Homo sapiens: one gene and its partner. The protein of the gene in region 1 interacts with the protein of each later gene in a pairwise test. Each region holds a gene or a part of one and is shown on either strand. Other genes may lie near its edges.

The links.
Region 2: the proteins of NAT2 (region 1) and RAD51 interact in binary tests that used the Homo sapiens proteins (3 or more experiments, as listed by UniProt).

What each region holds. Positions count from the first base shown.
Region 1 is NC_000008.11:18,397,687-18,401,509, reverse strand, and holds the end of NAT2 (arylamine N-acetyltransferase 2), read right to left. Parts: intron 1,513-3,823; 5' UTR 1,507-1,512; coding exon 634-1,506; 3' UTR 292-633; downstream 1-291. UniProt on the Homo sapiens protein: Catalyzes the N- or O-acetylation of various arylamine and heterocyclic amine substrates. Participates in the detoxification of a plethora of hydrazine and arylamine drugs, and is able to bioactivate several known carcinogens.
Region 2 is NC_000015.10:40,704,919-40,708,741, forward strand, and holds part of RAD51 (DNA repair protein RAD51 homolog 1), read left to right. Parts: intron 1-1,258; coding exon 1,259-1,376; intron 1,377-3,823.

The DNA of each region.
Region 1 (3,823 bases):
ATTATTTGCATTTTATCTTTGAGGAATCAGAGCCACAGATTTTAAAAGTAATTCACCCCGTGTCCACAGGATTTCAAATCAGATCTACACAATAAAGCTCATGTTCCTTCTCTTGTGGCAAAGTATGGATGGAAGTAAAAGAATGTAACTAGGAGACAAGAAAGAGGATGAGAGGAAGACTCTATTGAGGAAAAAATGCCTAGCCCCATAATATCCTAAGTCGTCTAAAGAAAAACTTTGATTCACAATATATTAGCCAACAATGTTTTCATAAACTTTAGAGACAGTGAGTTTTTCCACAATATTCTTTATTCATTTACCAGTAAAAATTTACTATGAATTCAACAATAAATCAATATTAAATGTTTTCTAGCATGAATCACTCTGCTTCCCAAGATAATCACAGGCCATCCTTAAAATGCCTTTATTTTTATTAATTTGAAAATGTGTCCTTATGTTTCTTTAAAAAGTTATTGTTTTTTAATAAATGCTGACATTTTTATGGATGAAAGTATTTGATGTTTAGGATTTTCTTCAAAATAACGTGAGGGTAGAGAGGATATCTGATAGCACATAAGTTGATAATTAGTGAGTTGGGTGATACATACACAAGGGTTTATTTTGTTCCTTATTCTAAATAGTAAGGGATCCATCACCAGGTTTGGGCACGAGATTTCTCCCCAAGGAAATCTTAAATATATTTCTCAGCACTTCTTCAACCTCTTCCTCAGTGAGAGTTTTAAACTCGACCAGATCTGTATTGTCTTTATAATTGAATTTTCTATAGGTGAGGATGAAGCCCACCAAACAGTAAACCCCTTCTGGGGTCTGCAAGGAACAAAATGATGTGGTTATAAATGAAGATGTTGGAGACGTCTGCAGGTATGTATTCATAGACTCAAAATCTTCAATTGTTCGAGGTTCAAGCGTAAATAAGTATATTTTTTGGTGTTTCTTCTTTGGCAGGAGATGAGAATTAAGAAATTCTTTGTTTGTAATATACTGCTCTCTCCTGATTTGGTCCAGGTACCAGATTCCTCTCTCTTCTGTCAAGCAGAAAATGCAAGGCACCTGAGGCTGATCCTTCCCAGAAATTAATTCTAGAGGCTGCCACATCTGGGAGGAGCTTCCAGACCCAGCATCGACAATGTAATTCCTGCCGTCAATGGTCACCTGCAGGAGAAGGTGAACCATGCCAGTGCTGTATTTGTTAACTGGAGGGATGTAAAAATACCCTCCTAACATTGTGGTCTGAAAACCGATTGTGGTCAGAGCCCAGTACAGAAGTTGATTGACCTGGAGACACCACCCACCCCGGTTTCTTCTTACAATGTGATCAAAAATAGCCTCTAAGCCCAACTCCATGGCTTGCCCACAATGCATGTTAAGGTTCTCAAAGGGAACAGCCCGGATCTGGTGCTCAAGAATGTCAGTTAATGTTTCCAAGTCCAATTTGTTCCTAGAGTTCTTATAGCCAATTCTTTCAAAATATGCTTCAATGTCCATGATCCCCTAAGCAAGAAAAACAAAACATAAAAACATATCATACTTTAGCATTTGATTTCCTCGTGTGACTAATTATAGGTATAACGTATTTTAAATACGTAAAAACACAATGGTTATAAGTATCTGTCATAGTAATTCTTTTGTTAGTATTTCTACTGCATGAATCCCTTTTACATGCATAAGTTCTCTTAGTAGTCTCAGAACCCTGTAAGGAAAGTATTATTGTATCTTCCGTCTTTTAAGCATGAGGAGTTGGAAATCCAGATTAAATAAGGAGCCAAATGGTAAACAACTTGTTTGTGGTGTTCTTGGTGATGAGTAAAAAAGAGATTCCAATTGGTATCAATTATAATAGGCTTATAAACAGTTTCTGATATAAGCAGGAGAATTATACAGTAGAGTATATGGTATTCATGGTACATGACCCACTTGATTTCCCATTTAGCTGTACCTAACACAAAGCTCCTCACTCAAAAAATATATTGATTAATTCATTCATTCACTGATTGATTCAAGAAATAGTTTACAGAATACTCTTGATGTGTTTCCTATTGTTCTAGTACTTGCTTGCCCTCAAAAATATTATATTTTAATGGGAGTTGAAGGGACACAAATAGGAAACTGAATAAATGGATAAAACATGCAGTCTGTTAGATTGTGGTAAGTGCCTGGTGAAAACAAAAAGAGGGGTTAGTGGGTGCACAGGGAGAGCACTGAATTCAAACAAGGTGGTTAAAGAAAGGCTCACTAAGACTTTAAGGATGCTAGAGAATAAGTTCTGTGGATATGTGTGAGGAGGATTGTTCCATGCAGTGGAACAGAAAGTACCAGGATCCTTAGCTGGAACCTGTCCCAAGTGTTGAGGAAACATCCAGGAAGCCAGGGTGACTGGAGCACAGTCAGTGAGAAGGGGAATGGATTGAGATGATATCTGACAACTAACAGTGGCCTTGGAGCCAATGCTTATATTTTGGCTTCTATTCTAAACGAGATGAGAAATCAAAGTGAGACAGGATGAGAGAAGGGTTATAAGCGGAACAGTGTTCGCCTAATCAAAGTGATCTGTCTAGCTACTGTGTGGACAATAGGCTGCCCATATTGAGCTCTATGGGCTGTCACATAAACTATGTAGGACCACTTCAAACACAACAGCTCTAGGACCAAAGCTTGGCTGATGGGTGGCATGTGACCTAAGTAGATCATTGAAACTCTATTGAGGCATTTTTGCTGAAATCTAAGCACATGTATTATGCTGCAAGGCTAGAAGCTGGGAGGATATCAACCCAAAGCTACTGGGGAGAACCCACTGAAGAACAATACTAACAAAGAATTTACTAGTAACTTGAGCAGGGGAATACGTGACTCTTAGTACCAGCATAGGAAGTTTCATGGTTTCGTCGAAGACTTTAAATACACGTTGTAGCTCAGAAGACAGTGCCCCAAGGTAAAAGCTTCAGAAGTCAGTTTTTCTTTGGCCTTCTCCTGGCCTCCTATCTCTCAGTCCCAATATCCCTCAAAGCTGGCCAAACAAACTAGAATCTCTTTCCCCAAGGCAGAACCTAGAAATCAGAACTCCTTTTTCTCAAAACCAGCCACAAAGTCTAAAAATATTACTCTAATTTGCCCTCTCCCTTTCTGTGTATGAATTAGCCATAAAGAAATTATCCAACTTACCTTGTTGGATTGTAGGTCATAAGATCCCTATACCCAGAAGGAAGGAGTACATGCTCAGAGAGGTCAAGAGGAATCTAGACAGACAGGTCTTGCTGGGTTTCCCCAGTCCATTGGCATTAGGTTATGCCTTTTGCCTCAATCATATTTTTATATGTGCCCATACCTTGTCGCACCTAAGCATAAAAAGGACAATTTCCCCTGTGTGTTGGGGTCTTTATTCTGAAGACTCCAGCATACACACTCCAAACAAATCTGCATGCCTTCTCTTCAACTGATCTATCTTTTGTGAGTTGATTTTTCAGTAATCCTTCAGAGGGTTTCTGGCCCTTACTCATAGGAGGAAAAGCCAACAGCACAGAATTAAGTGATAATGGAAGAAAACATTGCTTTTTTTGAAGCTTTAAGACGAAACACTTCAGCATCAGGCTATAGCAACAGATTTAGACCTGAAGAAAAAAAAAATTTGCCAGAGCCAACAAAAAGTTGAAAGAGAGAGTTAAGATCTCAGCTATTCTCAAATGAAGAAAAGGCTAAAAGCAGCAGGATACACCAGAAGTTGAACTTCTGAGATATCTGAGAAGTTTCAAAAAGAAAAAAATAGCATTAAACATTAAAACTTCTTGGAATTTAATGAAGAGCAAAT
Region 2 (3,823 bases), on another chromosome or scaffold:
CAGCCTCCCAAAGTTCTGAGATTACAGAGGTGAGCCACCACACCCAGCCACCCTGCTAATTTTAAAACATTTTTAGAGCCAGGGTGCTGCTTTGTTACTCAGGCTGGTCTCAAACTCCTGGCTTCCAGCAGTCCTCCCACCTCAGCCTCCCAAAGTGCTGGGATTACAGGTGTGATTCACCACACCCAGCCTTCTTTTCTAATATAGCTGTTTATAGCTATGAATTTCTCTCTAAGCACTGCTTTTCTTGGAGCCCATACGTTTTGGTATATCTTCGTTTTCATTCATTGCAAAAACATTTTCTGATTTCCCTTGTCATTTCTTCTTTGACTTGTTGCTTATTTAGGAGTGTGTTGCTTTATTTTTGCATATTTGTGAATGCACTTACTTTTCAATTTTAGAATCAACCCATAGTGCTATTACAGAACACTTATCTGTAATTACAAAATAGAATGTGAATGTTCTCAGCCAGACAATATGAAAGAAAAGGTACAGCTGATAGAGGTGGGGAAGTAGCCATGGAGAGAGAAAAGATTGAAGGGCAAATGTCCTCATTTTTACAAAGTAGGAAGTTAAGGGATACAGTCTGCGGTTGATGGAGCAGGAAATGAAGGTGTACTGTATTGTCATTTTTGTCATAAATTGGGCAAAACACATATGTACGGATCTCTAATAGTTTTTTGTTTTGTTTTGTTTTGTTTTTTGAGACAGAGTCTCGCTCTGTCCCCCAGGCTGGAGTACAGTGGCGCGATCTCGGCTCACTGCAAGCTCCGCCTCCCGGGTTCACGCCTTTCTCCTGCCTCAGCCTACCAAGTAGCTGGGACTTCAGGCACCCGCCACCACGCCCGACTAATTTTTTGTATTTTTTTAGTAGAGATGGGGTTTCACCATGTTAGCCAGGATGGTCTCGATCTCCTGACGTTGTGATCCGCCTGCCTTGGCCTTCCAAAGTGCTGGGATTACAGGCGTGAGCCATCGCACCCGGCCGGATCTATAATAGTTTTTAAAACTATATTAATATATTAACTTGAATTGGCAATTTAAAAATTGATCTTCATGGAATCTCTGAATTAGATTATCCTTTTTTATGACTTTCTAAAGAGAAATCATCCTGGTAATTTTATTTGATATTTTCTCTTCCCATTGCACACCTTGTTTTACTAATATTTCTTTTTTCTTTATATATATTTTTTTGCCATCAAGATCACTGTGGTAAGGAATATTATTTTGTTGATTTAATATTTCTTATTTTTCCCAGGCTGAGGCAGCTAAATTAGTTCCAATGGGTTTCACCACTGCAACTGAATTCCACCAAAGGCGGTCAGAGATCATACAGATTACTACTGGCTCCAAAGAGCTTGACAAACTACTTCAAGGTGTAGTAATCCTTTATCCTGTGTTGTGAACTCTAGTTAGGAAAGCTTCCAGGTTATAAAACAAAACTGAAATATTTGTGTAGCATTTCCTTGTTAGATAATGATAAAGAGATAGAGGAAGGCCAGGTGCAGTGGCTTATGCCTGTAATCTCAGCACTTTGGGAGGCTGAGGTGGGCAGATCACCTGAGGCTGGGAGTTCGAGACCAGCCCAGCCAACATGGAGAAACCTATTAAAAATACAAAATTAGTTGGGCATGGTGGCACATGCCTGTAATCCCTGTAGGTGCACATGCCTACTCGGGAGGCAGAGGCAGGAGAATCACTTGAACCCGGAAGACGGAGGTTGCTGTGAGCCAAGATTGTGCCACTGCACTCCAGCCTGGGTGACGAGCAAAACTCTGTCTCAAAAACAAAGAGAGATAAAGGAAGTATCCACATTGAAGAGGTAAGACTGCTGCAAGGTAGGACCTTATTTATAAAATACTAAACTTATCTGCAAATTAAATAATTTAGTCTCCATTTAATATTGTGTTAAGAGAGTAAGCTCCTTTTGCTTAAGGAGGTAACTGTAATTATAACCTACTCTACCACAGGGTTGAAAACCTGATGACTGGTTAAAACATTCCATGTTTGAATACTACTCATTGTGTACACACTAATCTTCAGGACTTCAGGGAAAACTATAAAGCTTTTGACCTTATTATTTATTTTTCGAGACAGGGTCTCACTCTGTCACCCAGGCTGGAGTGCAGTGGCATGGTCTCAGCTCACTGCAACCTCTGCTTCCTGGGCTCAAGTGATCTTCTAGCCTCAGTCTCCCCAAGCTAGGACTATGATCATTTACCACCTGGCTAATTTTTTTTTTTTTTTTTTTTTTTTTTGAGTCGGGGCATCACTCATTATGTTGCCCAGGCTGGTCTCAAAATCCTGAGCTCAAGCCATCCTCCTGCCTCAGCCTCCCAAAGTGCTGGGATTATAGGCTTGAGCCACCTTGCCTGGCCCAATGTCAGTTTTCTTTCCCTTTTTTTTGAGACAGAGTCTCACTCTGTTACCCAGGCTGGAGTGCAGTGGCATAATCTCAGCTCACTGCAACCTCCGCCTCCTGGGTTCAAGTGATTCTCCTGCCTCAGCCTCCCAAGTAGCTGGGACTACAGGCAAGTGCCACCATGCCCAGCTAATTTTTGTATTTTTAGTAGAGATGAGGTTTCACCACGTTGGCTAGGTTGGTCTCGAACTCCTGACCTCAGATGATCTACCCGCCTCAGCCTCCCAAAGTGCTGGGCTTACAGGCGTGAGCCATCATGCCTGGCCCCCAATGTCAGTTTTCTAATATCAGTGCTATACTATCATTATGCAAGAGGTTAACACTGCAGAAGGCTAGGTGCATAGAAATTTCGTATGTTTTTTTTTGTTGTTGTTGGTTTGTTTGTTTGTTTTTTAAAGACAGAGTCTTGCTCTGTTGCCCAGGCTAGAATGCAGTGGCACAATCTCGGCTCATTGCAACCACTGACTCCCAGGTTTGAGCAGTTCTCCTGCCTCAGTCTCCTGAGTAGCTGCAATGACAGGCACCCGCCACCGTGCCTGGCTAATTTTTGTATTTTTAGTAGAGACGGGATTTCACCGTCTTGGCCAGGCTGGTCTCAAAGTCCTGACCTCCTGATCCATCCACCTCGGCCTCCCAAAGTGCTGGGATTACAGGCATGAGCCACTGTGCCCAGCTTTTTTTTTTTTTTTTTTTTTTGAGATGGGGTCTTGCTATGTCACCCCGGCTGGAGTGCAGTGGCATGATCTTGGCTCACTGCCACTTCCGCCCCCAGGTTCAAGCTATTCTTCTGCCTCCGCCTCCCGAGTAGCTGGGACTACAGGCATGCACCACCATGCCCAGCTAATTTTTGTATTTTTAGTAGAGACAGGGTTTCACCATATTGTGCCCAGCTTTTTTTTTTTTTTTTTTGAGGAGTCTCACTTTGTCACCCAGGCTGGAGTGCAGTGGCGTGATCTCGGCTTGCTGCAGCCTCCGCCTCCCAGGTTCAAGTGATTCTCCTGCTTCAGCCTGCTAGTAGCTGGGATTACAGGTGCCCATCACCAGTTCCAGCTAAGTTTTGTATTTTTAGTAGACATGAGGTTTCACCATGTTGGCCAGGCTGGTCTCGAGCTCCTGACCTCAGGTGATCAGCCCGCCTCGGCCCCCTAAAGTGCTGGGATTACAGGTGTGAGCCACCGCACCTGGCCTTATTTGCAGCTATCTATAAATCTAATTATTTCAAAATACTTTTGGTTTATTTGTTTGTTTGTTTGTTTGTTTTGAAACAGGGTCTCACTGTGTCACCCAGGCTAGAGTGCACTGGCACGATTTTGGCTCACTGCAACTTCTGCCTCCCAGGCTCAAGTGATCCTCTCACCTTAGCTCCTGAGTAGCTGGTACTACAGGCATCCGCCACCATGC